Linked DNA regions of Homo sapiens. The protein of the gene in region 2 purifies or fractionates together with the protein of the main gene of each other region. This does not show direct contact. Each region holds a gene or a part of one and is shown on either strand. Other genes may lie near its edges. The genes, in order: ANO4, EHBP1L1 and PPP4R1.

Region 1 (10,190 bases), on a different chromosome or scaffold from region 2:
AATAAGTTTAGCTAATTTGTCTCTTCTGTTCAGTCAGGTCACAAAATCAGAAGCTAAAAATAATATCTTCGAAAATTGGAAGATATATGTCACCACGACAGCAAAGGTGCCCTTCTACGAAAAGAATTTCTCAATGGAATAACCACAGGGAAAAAAATCTGCCCAAGCAAACTATTTTTCAACCAGATTCTTTGAGAAATTGTGAATCAGTAAATAGAACACTGGCTGACAATGAAAAGACAACCAACTCCATGAAGTATAAGTAGACTCTGAACTCCTCAAGAGGAGTGGATGTGTCTGGCTGTCTCACCACTAGATCTCTGCTGCTTGGCAGTAGGGTGGACACAATAGGTGCTCAGTAAGTAACAGGTAAATGAGTGAATGGTGAAGGAATTAATTCACAAACATCACCCCCTCTACATAGAAATCAATGATCATTTAAATAGTTTAAGCAAAGGGGAAAAACTATGCATAGTTTTTGTAAAATTCTTTAAATGTTTATAGGAAAAGCAGAATTTCAACATAAAAATGCATTTCCACACAAGCATAAACAAATTACCATAAACATTTGCTTGATATGACTCACTCTGACTGGTACAGCCACGTAATCTGCATGAAATGAACCCAGAAATAATGGACACCAGTGAGACAGATGCCACAAAGCAGATTTGTGAACAATGAATGGCACAGTGTCAGCTGTGTATCATGGAAGGGGCCCCACACTGGGAATGGAGCAGGGTTCTGAGTAAATGAATGCACCTTACACTAAAGTCATCCGGCCCAGGTGCTATGTGAGTCTCCAGCCTTGGGGAAGTCATATCACTTCCTTAACTTCTGTGGAATGAGAGGATTAGGTAAATTGCTCTTTAAGGTTCCTTTTGGTTTTTTTTGAGACGGAGTCTTGCTCTGTTGCCAGGCTGGAGTGCAATGGCGCAATCTCGGCTCACTGCAACCTCCGCCTCCTGGGTTCAAGTGATTCTCTTACCTCAGCCTCCTGAGTAGCTGGGATTACAGGCGCGCCCCACCATGCCCAGCTAATTTTTGTATTTTTCGTAAGATGGAGTTTCACCATGTTGGCCAGGATGGTCTCGATCTCTTGACCTCATGATCTGCCCACCTCGGCCTACCAAAGTGCTGGGATTTACAGGCATGGGCCACCGCCCCTGGCCAAGGTCCTTTTTGATAATCACAAGAGACTTTCCAAAATGTGCCAGGATAAGCAGATAGTCATCATATACATATTCGCCCTGTTCATGAAGGGTACCATGATCACACTTTTCTGAGTAACACTGATGCTCACGTCACTGTCACAGTTCTGGGGGCTTTGCAGGGTCAAAGGAAGTTACAGCCTACTCCCTCCAGGAATGTCTAATATGGGTCAATTGTCTTAGAAATAATCGTTCATCTAGTAGCAAATAGAAGTGAATTAATACTTCACAATTTTTAATGGCTGGGTTACAGTCCTCTGGGATTATCTGGTCCAAGCTTCATGTAGCAGATACAGAATTTGAGTCACACAGCCAGTTAGTGGTGGGGGCTGAACTGGAATCCAAGGGGCTTGAAGATATCTCTCTGTGACTGGCTGTGGTCTCTGATGGTCTCCAGACACTCACTCCCTCTCTGACACTCAGAGGAGGTCCCCTGTGGGGGACCAACAGGAAAGATGTAAGTAACTGAATTCCTACTGTATTACATTATGTCTGCTTTCTATAAGAATGGCTGCTGGCTCACACACACCAAAAGGTCAGTCAGCAGATGCCTAATTAAGGGTTAAAGATTTCTATTAGAGAAAAAGCCCACAAAACCTGTCATTATGTGTTTTTACATTTCTTCGCTCTTCAGACTTAAGAGCAAACAGCCTGACTGGAGAATTAAATGCTAAACATAGGAAGAATGTTCCCCTTTCGTCTTGCATTATTTTGGGGCTGTGATTTGGTTCTCCTCCAAAATTCTGCCATCTCCCTCCAACTCCTAAGAAGTATAACTTGCAATATAAACATTTATGACAGTCTGGATAGATTATTATGCTACTGAGGACATGTTTTTTTCCCTGCAAAACTGATCTAGTAAAGACAGTCCTAAATGAATTTAGTAGGGAGGCACAGATCAAAAATACAGTATTCAACACAGCTCATGAAGCATTTCTCCTATTTTATACAATCTGCCTGAGTTGCCAATTGAATTGCAAGTTCCTTTCCAAGTAGATTACCAGAGCTGGTGCTAGAAGTAGTTCTGAATCTCTGCTGAAGAACAGTCTTCCCTCTAAGAAGCCTCATGTGGGAGTCGCACATAACTCTTTGTACTCTGTAAAAGGGGCTCAAAGAGATGGTAAAAGGGATTATATTGGCTAAATAATATTGGGAAAAGCAACATAAAAATTCAGCCAACATTCTAATGATATGGTTCATTCAGTTACCAAAGAAAAGCTGTATCACATAATCAAATGATTTTACTTTATAACACCCATAAACTCCCCCTCTTAACACAAAGACCTTTTAGACAGTAAACATATCAAGGTTTGAGGGCAGTCCAACCTAGACAGATCCAGAATGTCATTAATTAAAATGCAAAATCAATTCTATTTCTGGTCCTGGTAATCAACTATGGAAAACAGTTTCAATGATAAGAATGCCTGCAGAAGTATGAGGTTATATTTATACTAACAGAAACAATTTCTTCCCTCAGTTACATGATTATGGTTTCAACATTTGGAGTTTGGTTACTAAAAGAAAAGCTGTAATCATCTCTTCATTAATTGTTGTACATTTTTCACTGTCTGAGTTTGTCTGTGTACATGTAGGCATGTTCACATATATAAAATGGCAAAAGTGAAGAAGAGAGAAAGCAGAAGGCAAGAGGACTTTAAAAGGGAGACTTGGTTTATAATTTAAGCTGCAAGTTTCAAATTAAACCACCACCAAAAGAAACAGTGAAAGCACAGTTTTGATGATAGTTGTAATTAAAGAGTGTAAAAAAAAAAAGAATAACTGCATCAACTGCATCTACACCAATCTAGGTGTTTCCAGACCCATTTTAAATAACTTCAATTTGCTAAGTCTGCAAGCAAAATCAGTTGCAAGGCATAGCAGCAAAATAAATACACACAAAATGTTGCAGTGACTTCATCACACCAAGAGGCTACAGGCTCCGCTCAGCACAGCTTTTATCAATTTTTCCTGCAGTAGTTTTCTATGCTGCTTTCAGAGACCCTGCAAAGGAATTAACATGACACCATGCTGTGAGACAAGGAAATGCTGAAAAATGCACTCTCCCAATTCAAAGAAATTCTTAAAGGCATTATCTGGAAGTGGGGTCTAGGAAGTGGGGAAATCCTTACCAAAAAAAAAAAAAAGCCAGTTAAAGCAATATCTGAGGAATTTTCCTTCTGTTCTCCAAATGGGCATGCTACAACAATTTTTTAAGTATATACAATTGACACAGTACAAACAACAGTACATTTGTGTACACGCTTGTATATGTGTGTATATATATATATATACACACACATATATATAAACAATTGCACATATATATACAATTCTGATTGCATAGGTACACAATCTGTTTAGCAAAATAAAGGAAACCTAAATAATGTTTTTTCTCAAGGCTAAAGTTGCTACTAATTAAAATGAAATATGTTCTAAATGATTCTGAAATTGCCTGCAGTGAGAAATACTGAGTCTATTTCCATGACACCCAAGCTGATTCTAACACTTTCCATCTTAATGAGTATCCTCAGTTGAGTTACCAGGCACTATATAACATCCTTTCAATTAGAAAAAGAGAAAAAAAGATTAAGCAAAGTAAGAACACACCATTAAGGATGAAAGTAAACAGCTAAACATTAAAGAATTAAAGAGGAAGCAGAGCAGTCTGACAGTCAAATTACAATACAGTATTGCCGCGAACCACAATCGAGTGTAGGGAAGAGTGGATATTAGAACAGCTAAGCCAAGCAATGCTGATAATATTTTAAAAATTGTTTTGAATTTTTTTTTTTTTTGCTGTTAACCTCTGTGCTGGTTTTACTCTTGAACAGGGCTAACATGTAAACATCTACAAATTCTTGTTTTTTATTTAAACGTATGCTTTTACAAATGCAAGGAACCCTTCACTGAAATAAAAAACAAACAAAAACAGAACAACAACAAACGCATCTACTTTGGACCCAGAGAAGAAGGTAAAGGCATATGTCTGATGTCATCACCACTATTTCAAGAAAAATCCACATGAACAGGGGACATAAAAGTAGTGAAAATGAGCAAGCAGTTAGGGAACTTTACATTCCAAACTCCCAAAGAGCAGGAGGAGAGACTGGAAATTTCACCCCACATTCTCTCCCCTCACTTATCACAAAAAATCACATTGTATTAGTTCAGTACCTTATGAATCAGAGACTGAATTACATTTGGCAAGAACCCTCTCTAGAGTGAAATGGACCAGAATGGAAAAACCTACACAAATAAGATAACCCACCTCCGGTCCAAGACTTGAAAATAACTAAATAGAATTACAACTGCGAAGCTATTCTTTGGAATGATGCTTTGACCAAAATAGTTCGACACACCTGCTACCAAAAAAAAAAAAAAAAAATCCCTGTTAAGAGAGACTCCTGCAACGCACAGGAGTGAAACTAATAAAATGTTCTTGGTTTCCTTTGGGCGTCAAGAAGCTGCCAGTAATAGACTTGAAGTTGTGATGCTCTTTGCAGCAAACCTCAGGAGACCAGGTGAAAAATTAGAGCACTATTGTAAGAGTAATGTCCCTGGAATAAACAATCTGCCACATCCATAGTCTTCGTCAGAAACCTGCTTATGTTCTCCTAGAAAAGTCTAACCATTCTAATAACCTCAAAGTATTTTATCTCCTAGCAGGAGGACAAAACTATGTTGTCAACTCAAAAATGTTCCTGTCATCACTGCCCTACCACTCTCTGAAGAGCCTGTAAAATATGGTTTGCAGAACTGGGTACCCTGAGACTCAGAAGGGAAAGAAGCAATGAGGTCATGCAGTCTACTCCGTCTGCCAGCTCAGGATTCCTCCTGCTGAGAATGTTCCTGCCCAAGTTGTAAACCCCACAAGATATAGGGTCATCCCAGACCCACACGGGCAGGTGCAGAAAACACAGCTGCCCACAGCAGACTCAACATAACTCACACGTGTGTGCTCATCTTTATCCACAAAGATGGAAGAGTTTGCTATGTGGGCAGGTCACCCCCGGCCCTTCTGATCCTGAGTGAGTGCCCCTGGCACACTGAGGATTCATCCTGCCCAAATTTGTCAGTCATCCTCCACAGATTCCCTGCACGCTGCTGCAGTTTACCATCGTGAACACATTTCCCCGGCTGCTGCTTCAAGGACAAAGACAGAGCACTTATATTCGTATCACAGCAGAAGAGCTCACGTTTATGGAAAAAAGATAAAAAGACAAACACTCCAGGCAAATGACCCCTGGCATTTTTGAAGCTGGATCATCCCAGACAAGATCCATGAAAACAGAGGAAATGCAGAAGGAAGGTCACTAAGCTTAGCTGGGAAGAGGGGGAACGAACGGTTCAGTTCACTGCAGCAACAGAGCAGCTCATTCAACGTAAGCACTTACCATAAAAATAGAAAGAGTCAACAGAAGGAGAAGGGATCCTTCCTCAGTGCCTTGGTGTCTTCGGCAGAAAGAAATCCACTGTGAACCTCCAGGCTCCAGTCGGGAGGAGGCCAGCAAAGTGATGACAGGCAATAAAACCACCACACACAAGTCCTTTTCAGCCTCCCCTCGGGCCGTATGCAGTTGTTTGTGCTGTAAAAACCCTGAGAAGTCTGGAACAGGACTCTCCGGAGAGCGAGCCGGAGTGAAAGCAGCCTGGTGGATTTCACCACCGTCTCAGAGCATCACGCCCAGGACTGGTCCTCCCCCTCCCCAGGTGCAGGGGAGGCATGGTCGGGGGAGGGTGGGCACTAGGCTGGGCTAGGAAAGGCGAGAAGAGGGATGAAAAGGAGTCTCTTTAGAGTGGAAGGAACTGCCGGAGAGAACATCAGTATTCCATATCAGTTATTGCCAGCGACCAATCAGCCCAGCCAGGGGGCCGTGTCAGTGTGACAAGAGAGCAGCAGATGACAGCCAGTTCTGAGAGCGGCAGGACAACCCCCTGCCTGGAAAAGAAATTTGGGAGGATTGGCAACTTATCCTCTCCACTGCTGCTGTTAATGTTTGCTTGTATTTAACAAAGATCTAAAGCCCCATAGTTACACTAGCCATGCAGGAAGTTTTTGAGGCATCCCACAGCATCTCTGCAAGAAGCCAGACTTGAAGTCCCCTAAATGATGTCTGATGGCATGTCACAGTCCAGACAGCCCTACTGATGTGCCTTCAAGGGGTCATCATGAGTACAGTAATGGCGCTTTGGACCTAAGCTTCTTTATGCCCAAAGTGCAGGATAAGATGACCAGTGACCCGGCTTTCTATTTCAGAAGTGAAAAATTTAAGACAGAGAAGGGTCAAAGGTCTCTCCAGGAATTTGACTGTCAATCTTCATTAGTTTTCTTGTATAATATAGGTATAGAAATATTGTTAGAGGTGAGCTTCTGAAGATAGTTAACATGTCCCTTTTAGAGCTCTTAAATCACCTATAAGACAAAATATGTGTTTGGGATAAACAATAATAACAATTCATAAACACACTGAAAATTGAGAAATTCTGACTTACACTAACAGAAGGAGCAAAGGAGCAAATCTCTTGGTGATAAATGAAGGATGCGTGGAGGACTCTAAACTTTTCCTACTTCCCTTTTCCCCTATTCTAATATTGAACTTATAAACTTTGTCCATATATATTAATTAATTTGTATTTGGTTGTGATGATTACATTATATAGGGATGTAGTTTCTGAAGTTAAATGCCAGTTTAATTGGACTCCACAGTAAAACTTCAGAACTTTTTGTAAGATGGGGAGATTGTCTTGGGCCACCTTTTTATCACTGCAGAAAAGATAACTCCCTTTAGTCAGTCAAGAGTTAACAGGAATATACAAATGCCCTCGGGTTTTGTTTTCTGTTTTTTTTTTCCAGGTGACTTACATGATGTAGAGTTTTTAATTTTAGTTGTCTGTTTTTACCTAGAAGTTGGAATACCATTTGCACATTTTGCTGTGATCTCTACCCGTAGGCAAGCTGACTTTGGGGAGCCTGAATACCACAGCTTAAAAGGAAGGGCTGAGCTCCAAGGAAGCAGATAACTCAGCACCAAAATGAGTCACAGCAGAAGGCCATAAAAAATGTTCCACATCAAAGATGAACATAATAAAGTGAAATTTTTTAAACGAAGAAGAAAGGATAGTTTGCCAGGGAAGTCCTTGTAAATTATATAAGGAAAACCTGGGAGACTTTGATTCTCAAATGCTGTTTTGTTATTCTCCTCAGTTCAACTCAAATCAGCAAACATTTGAAGAACATCAATTATGCATCAGGGCTACAGAGATGAGTCCTTGCCTTCAAGAAGTTTACAGTCTCATGGACAAATTTAAATCTTCTTCTTGAAATTTCAACACTATGATTCTTGCCAAGACAGAAAATGTTCTACTATTTTAATGTTCTTCAGATTAAACCAATCCATGAGGCTGGACTTTAGCCTCAAAGCTCTGAATTAGCCTAGTTAGATGTTTGTCATAACCGAAGCCATTCAGGAAATATAAATGCACAAATAATTTCTGAAATCGAATTAATATATGAGAAGGTTCTTTAACTGAATGTTTGTTTTTATCTGCATTAACGGCTTCTGACACTGTAAAAGCATGGGCAGCATATCAAGAATATACTTAATAAGGGAATATTATTTAAAGCTCCTAAATGAATTGAGATTAATACTGTTGATGAAACGGGTTCATACCTTGAATACACAGCATTATAATGATGCATGAAATGGAAAATACTGCAGAAATACAAATTATCTAGTGGATTAAGTAACTGCACATCTATATGACAATTGATCAATAAAAATAGGTATTCCAGTTATTAACTCAAACGCCATTAATTTTTAAAGTTCGGTCTCTTTATTCCTCTCTACTAAAAAAATGACAGAAAATGCCTCCCATTTCAGATAGCAACAACATTAATTTTTGTAATGTACAGATTGTTTATACAAGTCAATTAAACTTGGGATGATATCAGCGATTGTGTCTTGTTCACTGGTGTTGAACTGGTGTAGTACTTAACATATAATAGGTTCTCAATCAGTATTTGTTGGATCGATGGCCATTTGAATGGCCAAAAGAATGTGGCTAAAATTCTACAACAGCACGATTTAATGCCTTTTTCCTGACTACAAGATAAACTGAATTATGTACCTGTATCTGCCACTTATTTAAAAAGAAATAAGATAGCTTTTTCAGGAACTTTGTTTCACAGAAGCTTGTTGACAGAGCTTTCTAAAGGCTAAAAGACAAGTATTCTTCAAGCTCAGTCTTTCAACACCAGGGTAGACACAGTTCATGGGAAGTGGGTTCTGTGTTCTGTAACTAGCCTAAGGAGAAAAAGTGAAAATATGACTATTTTCCAGACCACCGAGAGGGTAGGCGGCCACATAATTCCATTTTTGACATCAGAATATTTTAATGGAGGTATGAGAATTGGGACTTTTAAATAACTTTCTGCCAATTAATGGTTTTGAAAACTAAGTTATAATCTGCATATGGAAAAGTCTGTGTCTCTTCCATCTAACTTCTGAAAGCCAGTGTCTAAAATAACTAAACCCCACCATGTGCCAGAGTTGACTCCAATGGCTCCACCTATCTTTCCAGGCCTTTGCAGCACCCATAGTGTAAGTATTATGTACACTGGGGCACCTGGGGCTCAGGGAGGCTGAAAACGCTCACCCAAGTGGCAAAGACAATGTAGGAACAACTGGAACAGCCTCAGAGCTTCCTTTTATATGGAGACACTGATTTGAACATAGGAGGGGGTCCCCCAAGAATGCTTTTAGACTAAATGTATGAGACAATAGAGGACCCTTCCCACCATGTTACATGAATTTGGATGAGGTGGGAATGACACAAGTCCAAGTTGAAGCCGAAACTTCTTTTACCTCAGAGATTAAATGTAAATCTTTTATGCAACAAAAAATGAATTCCTAATGCTTATAAATTAAAGAGAAAATGATTTGTATTTGTTGATTTTTGTTTCTCAACTCTGACCCTATAATTACCATTTTTGTTGTTGTTGTTGTTTTTTGGAGACAGAGTCTCGCTCTGCCATCCAGCCTGGAGTGCAGTGGTGCGATCTCGGCTCACTGCAACCTCTGCCTCCCGGGTTTAAGCAATTCTCCTGCCTCAGCCTCCCAAGTAACTGGGACCACAGGTGCATGCCACCATACCCAATGGGACCACAGCTGCATGCCACCACACCCGGCTAATTTTCTGTATTGTAGTAGAGACAGGGTTTCACCGTGTTGCCCAGGCTAGTCTCGAACTCCTGAGCTCAGGCAATCCGCCTGCCTCAGCCTCCCAAAGTGCTAGGATTACAGGCATGAACCACCACACCCAGCCTTGAATTACATTTTAAGGCCAAGAGGAATAGTCCTTACTTACTAGAATAATACTATAGAGGGAAAGAATATTCTAGAAAAGTATGGGACTGACATACACATTAAAGTATGGTCCCTCACTAAATTCTAAAATCCTAATTATCCTTCAGCATTCAGCAGGAGACCTGAAATGGAGAGAGGATAGGTTGAACTGCTAATGTTTCCCTATCAGAGGTCAATGGCTGCTAATAATTTCCCCAAAGTGCTTAGTAGGCGGGTTTGCAAATAGCAACAACCATTCCAAATAGTAGGTATCTGCAGCACATAAATATAATGAGAGCATCCAAGTCTTCAAAAATTTGTTTGCACAGTCAGCATTCCTTAGCCTGAAGAATCCTATGGGATCATCAAAATCAAATCATACAGAAAGAATCCATAAGATCACAGACCTATAATTTTTTCTTTTTTTTTTTCTGAAGATAGAAAAATAAATCAGTGGCTGACTTAAATAGTCAGGGAGAATTAGGCTGAGTCTGGTGAAGCCAAAATAAGAAGTATGTGTGTGTGCACCAATGTTAGAAAATTAGCGTGTGCATTTAAAATCTAACTGGAGTGTCTCCACATCCAATCAGTACTTAAGTCTTACCAATGTTACCTCTAAACTTCTTCTCAACACAGA
Region 2 (8,185 bases):
GGCTCAGCTCAGCCTGCACCACCTTCACTGACTTTGGCTTCAGCCGCAGCCTCACTGGGACTTGGACAGGCACGGGCCCTGCATGGCGGGCCAGGTCCACCTCGGCCGTGGCCAGCACCTTCCGCTGCCCCTTAGACTCCTGTGGGCCAGGGGAGAGACCAGGAGAAGGGGCATCAGTGCTGTCCCAGGGTCCCCAAGATTCCAGACCTGAGCCCACTCCAGACACTCACATTTTCAATAATAAATGTCCACTCTTTGGCCTCATACTGGTCCACGTGGGGGTCCTGGGAAGAAGGGTGCTGGTGAGTACAGGACTGTTGGGGCAGCAGCAAAGGGAGCAGAGCTTGTCTGGCTCAGGAGGTGCTTGGTAGTGGTGGCTTTTTTTTTTTTTTTGAGACGGAGTCTTCCTCTGTCGTCGAGGCTGGAGTGCAGGGGTGCGATCTCGGCTCACTGCAACCTCTGCCTCCCAGGTTCAAGCAATTCTCGTGCCTCAGCCTCCCAAGTAGCTGGGATTACAGGTGCACGCGGTGGTTGCTACCTCCTCCTGGGATGCACCCCAAGTTCTGGTCCCAGCTGCCTCTCATGCTGCATGTGTTGGGTAAATGCTGCCTCCTCCAAGGAGACCTCCTGGGCCAGTGATGCTGAGCAGGCCCCCCTAATTCTTGGCCTCACCCCCCGCATCCTCTTCTATCTGGATGAACAACCTACCAGGAGACCTGTGTTGCAATTGTTGCAACTGCCTGTGTTGCAATTGCCATCCATGCTGGAGGGCTAGAGACTCACCCTGTAGAGGGTCACAGAGATGTCCACATTCTCAGGTACCATCCACACCACGGTGCCCCGGTATGGGTTCTGGATGCCCGGCTGCCAGCTGTGGGCCTACAAGGGACAATCTGAGTCCTCCCCCCATCTTAACTCTTCCCTCCCACCTGCACCCCCTATCACCAACCTTGACACCATCTTCCCCTCCCCTCTGTGGATTCTGATCTGTGCTTGAACCTCACTCCACTCCCCCATCAGCCCCCATCAGCCTCCCACCGGCCCCCATCCCTAACCTGGATCCCCAGTTGCCATCCTTCCCCACCTTGGAGCAGATGCGTCGGTTCCGACGGGTCCATACCACCACCAGCTTATCTGGCTGCCTGGGGGAGGGGGAAGGGGAGGGAGAAAGGGAGCAGGCTGCTTGGTCAGGCTCACCTGCCTCCCCATCTCCTCTTCCTCCTCCCCCAGCTCCCTCAGGGTCTTCCTTCTGCCCACCTCCCCCTCCTCCAGAAGAGGGCCTGGGCAGCCCCTTATCTGGGGCCACAGGGTGCAGGGTGGAGCTGCTAAGGTAGGGTGGGGCCAGAGCAGAAGGGCAAAGGCCCAGACAGTGTGGGCAGGCAGGGACTATGAGGAAAGACAGCAAGTGAGAAAGGGACAGGCACATACAGAGACCAAGACACACAGAAACACAAGGACCTGGCAAGAGATGCCAGACACAGATGCACATGTGAGCATCGTGCACACACGCAGACTCCAACACAGGGAGAGACAAAGACGAGGGATAAAAGAAGTCCCTTCGCACAAAGATGTTTGTGGAGCGCCCACCATAAACCCAGCCCAGTTTTGGGGACAGAGGAGGGCAAAAGAGAGACAAGACCTTTCCGGTGAGGACAATGGAGGTGGGGGCAGACTACCAGTCAAGAAGGAAAATAAATTAACAAGCGAACTCCAGGGTGATGTGAGGGAACCCCTGGGGGTCTCCTTGAGGTTGGGTGTCTGGGCAGAGATGAGTGGCAGGGGGATGGGCTGTGTGAGGATCTGGAGAAAGAGGGAATGGCAAGTCCAAGGGTCTGCGGCTGGAGGGTGACATCAGAGAGAGGGGCAGAGAGTTGGGGGTGAGGCCGGAGAAGCAGCAGAGGGTCAGCCTGTCATTAACCAACACCGCCATCCCTCGCCCACCATGTCCAGCCCTTTGCTGGGCGCAGGGGTCCCAAGGAGGATCAGCTTTCGGCAAGATGATGACAGTGGAGCCTGGAGGGCAATCAGAAAAGACTTCCAGGGGGTGACATCTAAGCTGAACAGCATATGCCAGGTCAGACATGGAGGAGAGGCAGAGGCAAAGCCAGAGGACAGAGATGGCTGCGCAGGGCCCATTCCCAGGCACTGAGTGGACTCATGGCTGGGCCTGGGGGCAGAGGGCCCCTTGGGGTTAGATGTTCAACTGCTGCCCAGGAGGGGTGATGCTTGAGGGGACGATCCGGCCCAGGGCAGCACGCGAACTGGCCTTGCCTGTACCCAGCCCCATGCCTGCACCCTCTCGTGATGCTGGGGTTTGCCCAGCTCACTGTTCGTCTGAGGCCAAGCCAGGATAAGTGCCTCTCTGTTAACCCTGAGGATGCTGAGGCCCACAGAGGTTTGGAGCCAAACAAGTTTACACGGTTGAGCCTAGAGCCCTCCAACCCAGAGCCAAGTTCCCTTCCCCAAGCCCAAATTGCCAGCGATGGCAGAGCAAGGGTAACTAAGGGGCCTTCCCAGAAAGGGGAAGCGGACAGGGGGTGCCTAGGGAGGGCAGGGCTTGGCTGGGCAGCCTGACTCAGGCTGGGCACGCCCTCCTGGGAAGCTGCAACCTGGGCAGGGGCAGCTTCCCGGCCTGGGCTCCAGGCTAAGCAGCCCAGGAGGCCCTACCCACAGCCGCCTGTGACTCAGCTGCGTTGACACTGCCGGCACCCTCAGCCTGCTGTGCCCAGTGTTTCCCTGGCCTCCCGCAGGATGCTGGAGCAGGAGCCAGAGGCCAGAGTTCAAGTGCCAGCCCCCAAGCTCTCCCAGGCTCTGCTGAAAGATGTGAATGGCCCTCTAGCAGGCCCAGTGTGGGCAAGGCCAAGGATATGGCAGCTGCCCAAGGGACCCCAGCCTCCTGCTTACTCCCCTCCCCCTGGACCCCATGGTCCCTTCCTGCCCCAGCCCTTCCCCTGGGGAGCCTAAATTTAGCCCCGCCTGGCGGGTGAGGCCCCCACAGCTGTGCCCTAATCCAGCCAAGGGAAGCTGACACCAGCAAGCACGTATATTTAGGGTGTGACGCAGGGGCCTGGGCAGCTATGGGTGGCGGCATGTGAACGAGATGCCCCTGAACCTGTTGGTAGTCCAGGCTGGGGCCTGCACCCTCTGGTGAATCACCCCTCACCCTGCCACCTTGCCCTCCGCAACCCTCTCCTCCCGGACCCACAACCTCCTAGGTCCTCAGGCCCCTTTAAGCTGCTCCCCGCCTCCCTCCTCAATCCTCCCAGCACTCAGTTTCCCCTTTTAAGGACATTGTGGAGATGTTTCCAGCCTCCCAGCACTCTGGCTGAAGAGGCGGGAGTTGGAGGGGTTCTTCTGGCTCAACAAGATGGCAGGGGAGGAGGGGGCAACATCTCTGTTCTTAGCTGGACTAAGTAAGGTCAGGGAGGCTCCTGCCCCAGCCCTAGCCACCTGCAGACCTCAAAACTTGATCCCTTTTCCAATGCCACCCTGAACCACCTTTCTGGCACAAGACATGCGGCCTCCCTCCCCCAGCCCTGACCGCAGCTGAGGAAGGAGTGGACACAGGCAGAACCTCAGGCCTGAAAGTCCTGACCCCCGCGCAGGGAAGGCTGCCCACGCCCCCAACTCCAGGGGTCCCACAAATTGCAAGGGCACTTCTGAATCTCCGAGCCTGGGAACGGAACCAGGGCCCAAGCTGGGGTGGGGGCCCATTTGGTCATTGGGCTGGGGGGGCAGAGTCCTCTCAGGCTCAAAGGGCCGGATGAGGTCCCAGCAAGTTCGGGGGAGCCCCCCCGCCTCCCTCCCACTCACCATTTCTTGGTGCACTCCAACACTAGCTCGTGGTAACAGGCCACGAACTGGAACTTGGCCGCCCGCTTGCCCACGCGCTGCAGGCGCTTCCACACCGAGGTCATGGCCCCCGCCACCCCGCCGCCCACTTCTCAGGCCCGGGGCTCCCGCTGGCCCGCCACCGCTGGCCCGGCCCGGGTCCCCATGGCCTGTCCGCGCCGCCCGCCCCGTCCGTGCGGAGGTGTCCCAGGCTCCGACCCGGGACCGCGCTCTCCGCTGCCGCCGCTGGGGCCCGCAGGGTGGTCTGGCTGAGTCTGCGGGGTCGCCTGGGGCGCGTCGGGTGGCGAGCGCGGAGCTGGGAGCGCGCCGTTTCCTGGAGCCGCACCCCCGTCGGAAGGCGGGCGGGGCTCCGGCGCGGGGCGGGGGCCGGGGCAGGAGCGCGGGGGCGGGGCGACCCGGCTTCCGGGGCCTCGCGCCGCGACCCGGGAGCGGGAGCGGGGGCGGGGGAGGGGGGCGTGGAAGGGGTGTCGCCCGACCGCAGTGCCCGCTCGGTGCGCGCAGAGGCTGCGTGGAGAGAGGGCAACCAGCAACTTGGTGCCACCCTAGAGAGCGCTGCCCGGGCCGCCTTCCTTCCTGCCCGCAGCCCTGGGAGGTACGTACTACTGGCCCCCTTTCAACGGCTGGGAAAACTGAGACCCAGAAAGGGGAAGGGACTTGCTCAGAGTCATACTGTGAATGTGGACGAGGACCAGCTCTCAACTCCAAGGTGCAGCCACCCACGTCTTAACCAGAGCAGGAAGGCGTCAGTAACCTCGGTGGCCCAACCTCAGAACCTGACTCTGCTGTCAAGGGGGAAGATAATCCCAAACCCCGACAAGTAGCTGGAGAATCATAACTGACCTCCAACCAAGTGTGACTTTGGGCAAAGCGCTAACACTCTGAGCCTCAGTTTCAACGTCTATTAAATGGGGATAATTGTAGTTCCGCCTTTTAGGGAATCCCTGAGAGGATGAACCTCAGAAGGCATTTAGCAGAAAGCCTGGCTGATTTTGCCATGCCTCCTTATTAAATGGGATGCGCTATAATGGATGGGGAAAACGTGTCATTTTTGTGTATGTTTACTCTCCCTCCCCAGGAAAGCCTGCCTGGAGCGTTAGCAGCTGTGAACCCCTAGATTAGAGCCCTTATCGCCTACCCACCCGCCCTGCATGGTAATGAGCCTCTGCAGGTGTCAGCTGCCCTGGGGCAATAGGTCAGTTTGTTCCTTCCCGCTGCTCTGCAAGGTGTGTAAATGGACAGGAGCCCGGTGCGTGACTGCTACTTGGTTTAACGGGATGTCTGAGTGCCAGGACTGCCATCTGGGCTGCATCTCCAGGAGGCAAATGGCTGCAGCAGGGCGCGGGGATGTGCTGTTCGTCCGCACACCTCGGTGTGCGGCTTCACCTCTTTTCAGGAGGTTGTGAGGTGTCGTGTGCGCGTGTAGGGGGCTGAGTACCCACTGTCTCCGAACGTGCTGGCTTCTTCCGGTGGGCTTGACAACTGGGTTTGGTTCTCAGTCCCAGCGGTGTGGGTCCCCGGTTTCCTAAGAAACCTTCCACAGATAACTGTAAAGACCGCTAGTGCTGTGGGGAGAGCCGGCGGTCTTCACAGACTGAGCGGGGAATACGGGTCCCTGGAACCCCAATCAAACTTCACCGCCGCGGAGTCTCATGCTTGGCCTCCGGGAAGGCCCGAGGTGCCGCGACTTCACTCCCCTCGGCCTCTGCCACCCCTCCCTCCCACCCGCGGGGCGTGAGGTCCCAGGCCGTTCCCGGAGGCGCCTCCCCCGCCCCCGCCGGGGCCCCTTGCTCCGGCGACTCCGGCCACCCATTTCCTGCGCCGCCTCAACCCCGCCCCGCGCGGGGTGGAAAGTTTCCCTCCTCAAGGTGGGCGGCTCCTTCTCCTTCCTTCCCGGCAGGCAGGGAAAGCCCGAAGCGAACTGGGAGGAGGGAGCGGGGGACTCGGAGGTCGCGGGCGAGAGAGGGGAAGTGACTCGACCGCAGTCACCCGGCGGCTGAGCCAGGCTCGGCCAGCAGGCAGCGCCCCCAGCCCCGCCCCGGCGGGACGGCAGGGCCTTCACTCGGCGCGGGGCGGGGGGGGAGGGGGTCTCGGGCGCCACCTGCTGGCAGAGCGCGGGGCCGCACCTGCCACAAACACCGCGGTCTTCCCGCCCCAGAGCCAGCCAGGCAGAGCACAACGACGCTGAGTGTATTTATTTATCTACGCGCCCTGGAGACCGGCCCCTAAATTTAAATATCCAGCACGGGGCCTTGGCCCTCCTGGCCGTGGGTGGTTATTGGGACGGGTCCTGGAGCCCTTCCAGGGCAGAGGAACCCAGAGCCCGGAGGTGGGATGCCCCTGAGCCAGCAGCTGCCGATAGCAACAAAAGGTGAGGAGGAGATGGGAGCCAGGCACTCATCCCAATCCCAGAGACGCCAAGCGGAAGGGAAGATGCTTCGGGCCCCACCGCAAGGCTGAGGGTTGGCCAAGCTGGGGGTGCACACATGTGGAAGAACTGGAGGCCCAGTGCCATGAGCAGAGGCTGTACCCTAGATGCCCGCCCCAGTGCCAGCCAACCCAAGACAGGAGAAAGAGTTTGGCAGTTTCGCCTCTGAGGAATACATGCCTGGCCCTCCTGTGAGGTGAGGCGGTAGGGGGGAAGGCGCAGGCTCCGAAGTCTGAGGGCTTGCCGGAGGGGGAGTTTCTGAGCCTTTTGCATGGGTGCATGCCCCCTGCCCCCCAGCCCTTCAGAGGCTGATGTGGAAGGCATCCTGCAGCCACTGGTCACGGGCATTGTGCGTCTGGGGCACAGTAAGGGGTGGCGGGTCAGGAGGCAGGCTGGCATCGGGAGGCTCCTCGTCGTCAGACAGGCCCGCATCCGGTGGGTAGGAGCTGTCCGAATGGAGGGAGGATGACAGGTCCTGGCAGAAGCTCAGGTCTTGGCACAGGTGTTTGTAGTCCTGGATTGACTCGTACAGGCCCCACAGCTGGCACAACAAGGACATGTCCAACTGCCGCAGCCCCACCTGCAGACAACTGAGGGTGGGCTGGAGTTGGGGTCCAGGCCACCCCAGCCCAGCCCCGCCCCCTGGAATAGTGGGCCCCAGCCCATCTTCCCCGCACCTTCCTAAACGAAGTTTTTGTGGACATCAGGCACCACCTGCAAGCTATGCAACTTTAGTCATGACCCTCACCCAAAAAATGGGGTTATCCATTTAGCCGGATGAAATGAAGTAACGTCAGCAAAACATTTGAAAATATATGGTAACTACTGCCATAATTGGTAACTATCACTAATTATTGTTACCATAACCCTTGCAACCCAACTGGTGCCTGCAAGTCCTCTGAGACCCAGGCCGCCTGTCCCAGTCCCCTGCGTTCCTCCGCGTCAGCCCCCCGCCCAGCTGGCCCGGCGCCCACCCACTCACCATCTCCTTGCGCAGCGCGGCCAGCGCTGAGTCGAGGTTGACAGGACGACGCGGGCCGGCTGCGGGTCCCGCGTTGGCGGCGCCGGCGGCGTGGCGGGGCCCGTCCGGGGCGCGGGCGGCGCGGCTCAGCTCGTCGTGGATGCGGCTGCGCTGGCTGTAGACGCGCTCCAGCTCCCGCCACGAGCCCCCGCTCGCATTAAGGAGGCCGCTGAGGCCGCGCGGCAGCGGTGGGAGCCCGGCCAAAGCGCAGCCCGCCCCGCCCGGCGCCTCTGCCGAGGGCAGCCCGTTCATGGCCGGGGCCGGCGCGGACGGCGATGCCACCTCCTTCCCTCCAACGCTCCGCCCGGGCCGCCGCCCGCAGGCCCCGCACCCCGCGGCCCCGCCGGAGCCCAGCCGCCGCCCGCAGGCCTCGCTTTGTTCCTTCCCCAGCTCCTCAGACTCCGCCTCTGCCCCACCCCCTCTGGATGGGCCGGGCCTCTCTTAAAAAGGCAACGGTTGTGGGACCACGTCGCGCAAAGCTGAGAAAAGGCAACGGGACATCCACTCACTCAAGGGGAGATGGAAAAATGCGGCGGAGGGGGGAAAAGGCTGAAGGGGGCAGGCGTGGTTTCTTCACGGTTCTTTTTGCTACCCCGTCTCCCCGCCGCGCCCCGCCCCGCCCCCACACCCAAGGAAAATGATCTAACAGTGGAGTCAGGAGACTGGCAAGTCCACACTTGGTGCCTAACGTGCCACCTGACGCTGGGGTCACCACAAACTCCTGTCGGTGTCTGAGTACCTGGGGTGGGCATGAGATGGGATAGGCTGATAGGGTCAGGATGCTCAGGGGAAGGAGGGGAATCTATCAAGGGGATCGGAACACAAAACCTCACTTCCAGGTGGGGAATGGACACCAGATGGCGGAAGAGGCTGCAGAGGTGCTGCCA
Region 3 (10,346 bases), on a different chromosome or scaffold from region 2:
AGCCATTCTACTTCTAGATGTATACCCAAGAGAAAGAACATATATATTCACACAGACTTGTGTGTGAATGTTCATAGCAGCTTTATTTGTAACAGCAAAAAAACTGCAGATGATCCAAAAATCCATCAACATTTTAAAGGTAGAAAGCTGAGAAAAAGTTAACTTGCTCAGATTATAAAGAGAATAAATGGCAGGGCCAGAATATTAACTCAGGTCTAAAGGCTTACCAAGCCCAGTGTTCTTTCCCCTACACAAAACTATACTGAGGTATCTTCCAGAATGACTGCATGATAGATGCTCAAATACCAACCACATTCATATCAATAAGGCCAGAAAGTAAGTTAAGTTTGCTCCTTAGTCTAGGGAGATAAGAAGCTAAGATGACTTAAAAGTTAGGAGAGTTAAGAAATGAATGTGGAGGAAGCAGCATTGATGATGTCACCAGCTCAAAGATCTGTGCTAAAAGCAGAGCAAGTTCCAGACCCTCTTATAGAAATTAGAGGGAATACCTCCTCAGCCAAAATTCCATAGGTGTGCCATCCAGACTTCTGCCCAAAACACTAAGTTAGGTTTATTCTCAGCTCCAATTTAAAAACAACAACACAACTCTAATTCAAATTTAGGAACTTTCAAATTCTTTTACTCCAAAATATAAAAAAAAGATGTAATACAAACATAGGAGCAAGGTAACAATAGTTTAATAAACATACATTCATTGTTTTGAGGAGACTGAGAGAAAAGGACCAGAAATAATAAACCAGAGATCAAACAAATGTGGCAGCAGACTTCTGAACTTTACCTCCTGAGGTCTATTTATCTTTCACAGGCAGGAACAAACAAAAAGTATGCATTTAGGTGTCTTGGTTTTTTATTTTTTGGAGGGGGGAGGGCAGTGGATCGTGTAGCTACAGGCCCAAGCATATTTACAAAGGGGTTTTTCTCTCTGTCTCTCTCTCTCTCTCTTTCAATTTTATGTGGGAAGTTGTTAGCAGAGGTATCATTAATTGATCCAACACACATGTGGGTACCACTGAAACCATTTTAAAAGCACTCTTTTCTAAGATATCAATGATATTATCTCTAAATAAAGATCTCTCCATCCAGGCTTGTTGGCAGCAGTCAAAACAGGCTACCAGGTCTCACGACTCACCCTCCCAAATCCCTATTTAACAATACTCCTAAATATGATTCACGTTCAAGGGCACCTTCCAAAGGTTTCTGAATGATTCCCTGGCCACTACCAGATACAGCCCCAATATTTTGCTCCTCACCTCCCACCGGAAGCAAGGACTCTAAGCTTATCAGAACTGGTTTTGAAACATGGTAGGAAGGCCTGAAGATTCTGCACAGAGTGCGGTCTAGGCGGTTACCCTCAGTTAGTTCTGGACCCATCCTTCACTCTACTTCAACACCGCCCTTAAACCCGAAAAACAGCATAATGTAAAAGGATTCCAAAACTTAAATATGAAAAAAGTCTGTTGTATGGCATACTCAATAACATAGCTTCAAAAACTTTTCAACGTCATACTTAGTTACAGCTGAGATAAAAGTTAACGACTAAATAAGCTGTCTTATACCCAAGCTCCATCCTCTCTATCATTCTCCAGGTGTAAACTAAACCACATGCAGCATCCCAGATTAATTTTCAAGGGTACTTTAAGAACGAGTTCAAAGAAATTGCCTGTACAAGTTTGGGTTGATCAATATTTTAAACTGGGCCATTTAAGAAAATATTCAAAATATGATATTTAGAATCAGAAGGCCTAGCTTAAAATTCCGTCTAAACTTAGGAGTTTTGTTTCTTTAGTCCCTTTGGGCATTAGTCAACTTACTTATTAGTATTAGAATACCACAGCCTACACATCACAGGACTGCTGTGAAGAATAACCTGTGTATGAAAGGCACTGTAAACTAAGCGTTACATAGCCATTCTTTAAAAATAACATTCTTCAACATATTACTTTGATAAAAGCTTAAGTTCTAATGAAACTCCTTCAATGAAATTATTTTTACAAGCATTGGCTCATCAAATCTTAACCGTATCTTAGTCTCATTTCATTTTAGGAATCTACCAACTTAAATGTGAATCAAAATTGCATCTTTGGAAACTAAAACAGAAATCTGAAATAATTTTTTCTAAACATCTACAATTTTGTATTGTCTCCCATTATTTAAGGAACATAATTAAATATAAAAAGTTAAAAAGGGTTTACCCAACTCTGAAATCTGCTGAGATAACCTATGTTCAAATGGAGTCACTGGTTTGCTTTCAATTTGAAATTCAAAGTATTTCATGATACAGTACTGAAAGTTTCACTTTTAAACTTAAATACATATGGTTTTTATTGCATTATTCTCCTAAACTTTTTTTTTTTGAGACGGAGTCTTGCTCTGTCGCCAGGCTGGAGTGCAGTAGCACAATCTTGGCTCACTGCAACCTCTACCTCCTGGGTTCAAGCAACTCCCCTGCCTCAGCCTCCTGAGCAGCTGCGACTACAGGTGCACGCCACCACGCCCAGTTAATTTTTTTTTGTATTTCAGTAGACATTTCACCATGTTGGCCAGGATGGTCTCGATCTCCTGACCTCGTGATCCGCCCACCTCGGCCTCCCAAAGTGCTGGGATTACAGGCATGAGCCACTGCACCCAGCCTATTCTCCTAAATTTAAGAGTACCTGATAATGATTTCATTTACTTACCTTTATAAGTTACTTGATAAAAGTTTAAGTTCTAATGAAACTCCTTCAATGAAATTATGTGTACACACACACACACACACACACACACACAAATACCATCCATTTTTCCCTCATTAGGATTTTTTTTCCTCCAAAGGTTATCAGTCAAGTCAGTCTTTGACCAACCTTTTCCCCGACTCTGTGCCTCTGTACAGAGACGGGATTAAAACAAATCAAATCGAAAGACCTGAGACTCTTAGCAATGTCTGGCAATGCCCCTCTTTCAAGTCCTAGACTCCAGCTAGGTCCTTTCCTAGATCATCTGCACAACAGAACTTACTGTCTCTTCCCTCATAGTCCAGGTTCTGCATTTAGGAAGGTCAACCAAGATTCTAGAGCTTGACCAGAAAACAATTTCTTCCCATCCCAAGGGCCAACTTACACCTAGCTTGGCTGAAGTAGTAGGACTTGTTTACAACTACTCTGGAGGTTGGGCTCCATACTCTGGAGTTTTACCATAGACAGAGAAACTCAGGCTCACGAGATAACAACCGTGTTATAAGGGCAGCCCAAGCTCCGTTCCTCTACCTTTGGGTCCTCTACCTTCTCCAGCTTCTCCAGGATGTGACAGCTGTCTCAGTCCTTTACCAACCATCTTGCTCTCTAAGGAGGCACCATGGCCCAGTGTTCCCCCTCATTCTTTCTCCCTTCACAAGAGATGGGAAGTGGTCCTTCAACTGGCCATATGTCCAAAAGTCCTTTGTTCCTGAATATTCTGGGTAAAGGTATCACCTGTAAAAACTTTAGTAACTGAGAAAAATAAGCAATTACTCTAACAAAGCCTTCAACCAAATTATGAATATGCAAATAACTATTGTGCCTTCAATGTCTGTTTTATCCTAAATTAAAATGCACAGGAAACAGAATCTTTAAAAAGTTAGTTGCAGCCGGGCGCAGTGGCTCACGCCTGTAATCCCAGCACTTTGGGAGGCCAAGGCAGGTGGATCACCTGAGGTCGGGAGTTCGAGACCAGCCTGATCAACATGGAGAAACCCCGTCTCTACTAAAAGTACAAAATTAGCCAGGCGTGGTGGCACACGCCTGTAATCCCAGTTACTTGGGAGGCTGAGGCAGGAGAATCACTTGAACCCGGGAGGCAGAGGTTGCGGTGAGCCGAGATCGCGCCATTTTGCACTCCAGCCTGGGCAACAAGAGTGAAACTCCATCTCAAAAAAAAAAAAAATTTAGTTGCGAGCATTGGCAGCATCTTTAAGTACCTTCATTCTGTAAGGTTCAACATCAGTGTTTCCTTCTCTGCTCTTCTTTTAAGCTTCCCTTGCTCTTTTCTCATAACAGCAAACATAATCATAATCATCGCTGTTTACCAGGAATTGTTCCAAGTGCTTCAGAGGCACTAACTCATGTACAGCCTTGAACAACTCTATGAAGTAGGTAATATTTCTTATGCCTACTTACAAATGACAAAACTGAGGCATAGGGAGGTTAAGTGAGTTGCCCAAGTCTGCCCAAAAAGACACTGCTAAGACAAACAGAGCAGCCTGGCTCCAGTGGTAACTGTAATACTGTACTGTACACCTAGATTCAAAACTGCTTGTAAACCACTAGAGGGCATGGGTTGTGCCCATCTTTCTCAAAGCTCCATCCCCAGTACCTGGCAGAGTGTTGAAACTCATGGTTGAATTTTTCACAGGTATGCCTTCCCCTCTACACTGTGCTTCTTGGGGGCTAAGGAAGAAACTGAGACTGCATTTCATCCTTCAGGAGTGAGAAGTTTTTGCTCCAGTCATAAATACTTGCTGAATAAATGAATCTTCTATTTACGAAGTCGAACATAAATATAAAAAGCCCTCCTCGAGGTAACATAATCAGGGCCATTTCTCCAATCCTAACCTGGCAAGAGATCTGAAATCAACAGATGCCTTAAATAATATCTCAAACTTACTATTAGGCAGATAAGTGGCTTAAGGTAAACATTAAATAAAATGTTAAAGCTGCCCTTCACTACATGAGTACTGCTCCCTTTAAGAGAGCTGTTTTGAGCCACCTCACTAAAAACACAGACTTAGCAAAAGTTTGGATGTGGTTCATTTACTTTAAAGATAAATTACTCGTTTCAGATAATCCATCTAAATAGTAAATCCCCCTTACTTTACTCAAAACAACCAGGAATCTAAAAATTAAGTTTACTCTGAGTAAGGGAACCACATTAGACAATGCTAAGGATTAACTACAGAGTATTTAAAAGAGTAATTTCAAACTGCAGCCATCTCTGAAATTACTTATACAGGTACTAGACAGTCAATCTCAGCATCCGGTAGGCTTTCCACTAAACAGACCACAATCCTACTATGGTTATCATCTCAACTCAGAACAATTTCTTGGTCCCTTATGTATCCCATGATCTTCGCTTATATATTTTGCACACTCTGCATTTTTAAAATGCATCTCAAAACCTATTGATTTTTTGATGGGTCGCTATTTTGGAAGATTAGCAAGAATAGAAACTATTTTAAGTTAACTGCAATTTGTCACTTCTTTCAATACAAACCTGCTTAACTCTTTTGTCTTTTCTATCGTGACCCAAATTATTTTCTGAGGCTTAGAAAAGTACATATAAGACGAAAAATTCCTTTCTAAATATCAATTCCGTCGCCATCAGGAAATGTCAGAAACTTTGTCTTTTTAAAAATAAAAGCGTCAACTCTTTAAAAACTTCAGTACCTCAAAGGAAAGCTGCACTGTTAACACTGAAGGAGGGCTGGGTGATTTCTGAACATCCGCATTAAAGAAATATGCTCTCCAAACCTAGTAATTCCTGCGGAGGCCACACCTTCTAACCTTCTCGTAATCCACTAATCAAATCGGGAGCATCTGAAAACTGCTACCAGCCAAAGTAAAATGACAGGTATGTCATCCTCAAACAATCCAAAACCGGGTCGGGGAGCCCAGACGGCTAGCCGGGGCCCAGGCTGACCCCCGGGCGCTCCTGGAAGAGCGACTCTAAGGAAACACACCTCCCGCGCGAGCCTCTTCCTTCCTAGAGTGACGGGGGAAGGGGACACCAGGGGCAGAAACACACCCAAACCCCACTTCAAATCCTGCCCCACCGCTTCTCCTTCCAAAACAGCCGCGCCACTGCTGAGCCCGCAGGCGATTCGGGGGCGCCGGGAGAAGAGAGCGAAGGGCGGAAAGCGAACTTGGGCGTTACTCCGGGCGTCTCCCTCCCCCAGCGGAACCTGGGCGCGCCGTTTCCTCACGGACGCGAGATTTTCCCCCCCGATCGCCACCCCAGCCCGCCTGGGGCCGCCCTCGCCCACCGTCCCCTCAGCCAGCCAGGGCCCGGCCCAGGCCTCGCCGCCGCCCGCCCTCCCCGGCCGCTCCCCGCGGACTGCCAGGCCACCGCGAGGCCGGGCCACTCACATCCGTCTGCGTCCTCCTGCAGGTCCTCCTGAAGCAGCGAGAGGTCTGCGCCGAGGGGAGAGAAGAAAGGCCCGGTCAGCGCCCCGGGGCCCGGCGCGACGCCCCCCCCCCGCCCGCCTCCCCCCCGCCCCGGGGGCGCCTTCCCGCGCCGGGACCCCACGCCGGCCCCGGCCCGGCAGCCACTCAGGGCTGCGGCGGAGGGCGGGTGGGCTCGAGGAGCCGCCGCCGCCCGGAGAACAGGGGGCCACGTACCCGCCATCTTGTGGTCGCCCCCTCCTCCGCGGCCGCCCGGGGAGCCGGGGCTACATGGAGCGGCGCGAGCCGGGGAGCCGGTGGACGCGCGCGGGAGGGGCGGCGGGGAGGAGGAGGGCCGGGCTGGCGGGGGCGCGCGCGCGGGGCGGGCCGAGGGCCCGGGCCTGCCGCGGGCGGCGCGGCTCCCGGCCGCCCGGGCCCCCGGCCGCGCCCCGCCCCGCCCCGCCTGCCCCTCCGCGCGGCTCCCGGGCGACCGGCGCTCCCGCCTCCCGCCTTTCCCGCTGCTTGCCGGGTCCCGGCCCGGCGACGCGCGCTCACACCCTCCTCCCGAGCCGCCCTCACGCCGAGCGCTGCGGACGGGGGCGCGCAACCTGCCGCCGGCCGGGACCCTGCGGCGAGTGCCGGAACCCGGCCGGGCGGGGCCTCCCGCGGCCCGGCCGCTTTATTGGGTCACCGGCCTCGCCCACCGCCCTGCCAGCCGCAGCCATCTCGGCGGGCGCGCCGCTCGCAGCCAGCGCCCCATCCCCAGGCCTGCACGTACGTCGTCGGCGATCCGGGGCCGGGGGCGGCTCCGAGGTCGTCGGGGCCGGGGTCCCACCTCCTCTTGGAGGAAGCGCCGCCTCCCCACCCGCCCGGGGCCCTCGCCAAGTGGCTGCTAACAAAGCCCAGGGCCCGGCTGCGGGATGGTTGACTGACAAAGTCATGCCTGCCTAGCCAGCTTCCTCGTGCAGCACGGTGAAGGCTGGGGCGCCGGGTTTTTACTCCCACGTCCTGCCAACTCGAGCTGACAAGGCGGGCAATCCACCAGCGGGAGCGTTGGCAGGCCCGGGGTCAGATCCTGATTCAGCCAGTTAATTGGTAGGAGTGGGGCCCATTTGTAGAATGAAGGTGATAACTGCCTCGTGGGGTTATTGGCATTAAATGAAGAATGTAGGGAACCTAGCATGGTTCTTGATGTCTAGGAGGTGCTCGGTGAAGGGTGCCTATGATTCGCTTTGTCTTCTAAATACTTTTGGCAGCACTTGAGGTGTTAAAGTCTGTATCCCAGACTTTATTAGTCTTGTTGTTTTACGTGACTTAAGCGATTAGCTCAAACGCCCAAGTACAAAATGGGGCTAAACCCAGGTTTTCCGACACGATTCTACCTCCATGGCTCTATCTCCAGCTCCACCCAAGGCCTCCAAAATGGTGTTCTCCTAAAGTGACCAACAAAACACCAAGCTGTGTCATGGTGCCACTTTGGCGATGTGGTCTCTTAGGAGAGGGAATTCTAAGTAGTTAATTAGCTTGTTCCTTTCTACGTTGTAGTCTTGACCAAGGACAATGTGTTGGCATTTAATGCCACTGAAGATTTAAGAGACTAAGGAATCAGATCCTCTGAGATTCCTAAATCTGTGTAATAAAATGGGTTCTACACATAGCTATTCCAAAAAATTCAGTCAGATATTACTAACAAGATAGACAGATTATAATCTGTATGAAATTTCTAGGAGTAATAAAAATCAGAATAGACCCCGTAACCCCGAGTATGTGTCTAATTTTCTCAACTATAAAATAATTAAAACTAAAGGCCTTTCTCTTCCTCCCTTGGTGAATGCCCTTATGTGAATTCAGCTGACACACTCAGAATGACAAAGGAGTTAGAAATTCACATCAACAGCAATTGGTCCCAACTGACTCAAACCATGAGACTTCTGCCCTGCTAAGATACCTTGTCAGTATCTACCACTTTAGCAATTCTGGGTAAATGGGGGAAGAAAGAGCCAAATCAGCTCTTTTTTTTTTTTTCATTAAAAAGCAAATTTTTTTTAGAGCCAGTCTTGCCTTACGTAGCCCAGGCTGGAGTGCAGTGGCACAATCATGACTCACTGTAACCTCGAACTCCTGGCCTCAAGAGATCCTCCCATCTCAGCCTCCCAAGTAACTGGAACTAAAGGCACAGGCCACTCCACCTGGCCAATTTATTTTTAAAATTTTTTAGGGACGTGGTTCTACTGTGTTGCCCAGGTGGGTCTTGAACTCCTGGCCTCAAGCAATCCTCTGGCCTTGGTCTCCCAAAGCACCAGGATTACAGGTGTGAGCCACCAAACCCGGCCCAAATCAGCTCTTTATTCTAACTGGTGGTCTCACCGCAACAACACAAAATCTACAGCGTGCCAACTGTGCTTCAGCCGCTGGATGCACTAAGACAAAACTGTCTTGATCTACACAGTTGAGTTAGACTTAACAGTTCTCAGTAATCATGATAAAATAGGGACTATGTACCAAATGCTAGCCTAGGATATGGAACAACTAATTCTGCCTTTGGTAGCTAGGCCTCAGTAAGTTTTATCTCAGTATTCTGTGGGAAGGGCAGCAAAGGAGGAGGATCTGTATCATTTTTCTGTATTCAAGAGCTATGCATTTGATTATCATCTTAGCTGAATTACACATTGCAAGAAGTGCCTTTAAGCAATATGGTTTTTAGATATTTCAGTGACGGTATCATTCATGGTTCAGCACAAATATGTGTTTTTTACATTTCACTTTCTCTCCTTTCTAAAAGAAAGGAGTTTTTAAACCAGTGTTTACAAACTGCACTCTGTCCCCTTCTTCTAAGAAATAATATTTAAACAAATAATAGCAATCATTATTCTACATACCTTTAACCCAGCTTCACTTACAATGCAGCTCGTGGATGGCAGAGCTGTGTGTTGTCCGTGGTCAGACACACAGGAAGTCTGAATTGTTATCCTGTTCTGCCACTGAAATGTGTAAAATATAGGGGGAGTGTCCCAAGTCATTTTCCTAAAAGCATCATCCAACTATGTAAGTACTAAGGCCTGCATTTTTAAGAATAAGTCCTCTTCCAAATGATAAGGAAAGGGTTTTTGTTTGTTTGTTTTTGAGACAGGCTCTTGCTGTGTCACCCAGGCTGGAGTGCAGTGGTGCAGTCTCAGCTCACTGCAACCTCCACCTCCTAGGCTCTGGCAGTCCTCCCACCTTAGCCCCCTGAGTAGTTGGGACTACAGGTGGGCGCCACCACACCCAGCTAATTTTGGTATTTTTTCGTAGAGACGGGGTTTTGCCATGTTGCCCAGGCTGATCTCAAACTCCTGGGCTCAGGTGATCTGCCCGCCTTGGCCTCCCAAAGTGCTGGGGTTATAGGCATGAGCCACTGTGCCTGGCCACAGTGACAATTTTTCTTAGCAGCCAATGAGCCTTGGAAATTAATGTGTCTGGCTTTTCAACCACAAACAAACATAAAAAAAAAATGGCGAAAACATCGCTAATAAACAAAACCCACCTGATGTTGCTTGCCACTATCATGTTTGTTAATTTTTGTATCGGTGATTGAACCATTCACTTTTTTCTTCAGAATTATCATTCCTGAAACTGAAAGTATATAAGGACAGCCCTATTATTTATTGTTTTAAATGATGAAAAGAGAAACAGTCTGAAAAATGGAGAAATACTTACATGATTAAAAATGATTTTTAAACAAATATTTATTTGCTTTTTTAAAATGAAATTTGCGTGTCATCTTTGCACAGGGGCCATGCTAATCTTCTCTGTATCAGTCTAATTTTAGTGCATGTGCTGCTGAAACGAGCACGTTAAACAAATTTTTACCATTCATTTCATTCATCTTTTTTGAAGCCAGATTGACAAAATGTCCCTCATAAACTCATTTTCAAATAAGAAGAACAATTTTTAGGCCATGTGTGGTGGCTCACGCCTGTAATCCCAGCACTTTGGGTGGCTGAGGTGGGCAGATCACCTGGCGTTGGGAGTTCGAGACCAGCCTGGCTAACATGACGAAACCCTGTCTCTACTAAAAATACAAAAAATTAGCTGGGCATGGTGGCACATGCCTGTAATCCCAGCTACTAGGGAGGCTGAGGCAGGAGAATCACTTGAACCGGGGAGGCAGAGGTTGCAGTGAGCCAAGATCATGCCACTGCACTCCAGTCCGGGACACAGAGTGAGAGTCTG

Evidence for each region.
Region 1: the proteins of EHBP1L1 (region 2) and ANO4 purify together in Homo sapiens (co-immunoprecipitation; one large-scale study listed by IntAct). This does not show direct contact.
Region 3: the proteins of EHBP1L1 (region 2) and PPP4R1 fractionate together in Homo sapiens (co-fractionation; one large-scale study listed by BioGRID). This does not show direct contact.

The regions. Positions count from the first base shown.
Region 1 is NC_000012.12:100,790,440-100,800,629, reverse strand, and holds the start of ANO4 (anoctamin-4), read right to left. Parts: upstream 5,855-10,190; 5' UTR 5,603-5,854; intron 1-5,602. UniProt on the Homo sapiens protein: Has calcium-dependent phospholipid scramblase activity; scrambles phosphatidylserine, phosphatidylcholine and galactosylceramide. Does not exhibit calcium-activated chloride channel (CaCC) activity.
Region 2 is NC_000011.10:65,572,035-65,580,219, reverse strand, and holds the start of EHBP1L1 (EH domain-binding protein 1-like protein 1), read right to left. Parts: upstream 4,168-8,185; 5' UTR 3,918-4,167; coding exon 3,814-3,917; intron 2,014-3,813; exon of another isoform or gene 1,942-2,013; intron 1,143-1,941; coding exon 1,085-1,142; coding exon of another isoform or gene 1,056-1,084; intron 880-1,055; coding exon 784-879; intron 285-783; coding exon 231-284; exon of another isoform or gene 140-230; coding exon 1-139. Other genes in the region: FAM89B (leucine repeat adapter protein 25), read right to left, coding at 6,579-6,857, 7,260-7,550. UniProt on the Homo sapiens protein: May act as Rab effector protein and play a role in vesicle trafficking.
Region 3 is NC_000018.10:9,608,107-9,618,452, forward strand, and holds the start of PPP4R1 (serine/threonine-protein phosphatase 4 regulatory subunit 1), read right to left. Parts: upstream 6,454-10,346; 5' UTR 6,379-6,453; coding exon 6,372-6,378; intron 6,169-6,371; exon of another isoform or gene 6,165-6,168; coding exon 6,120-6,164; exon of another isoform or gene 4,351-6,119; intron 1-4,350. UniProt on the Homo sapiens protein: Regulatory subunit of serine/threonine-protein phosphatase 4. May play a role in regulation of cell division in renal glomeruli. The PPP4C-PPP4R1 PP4 complex may play a role in dephosphorylation and regulation of HDAC3.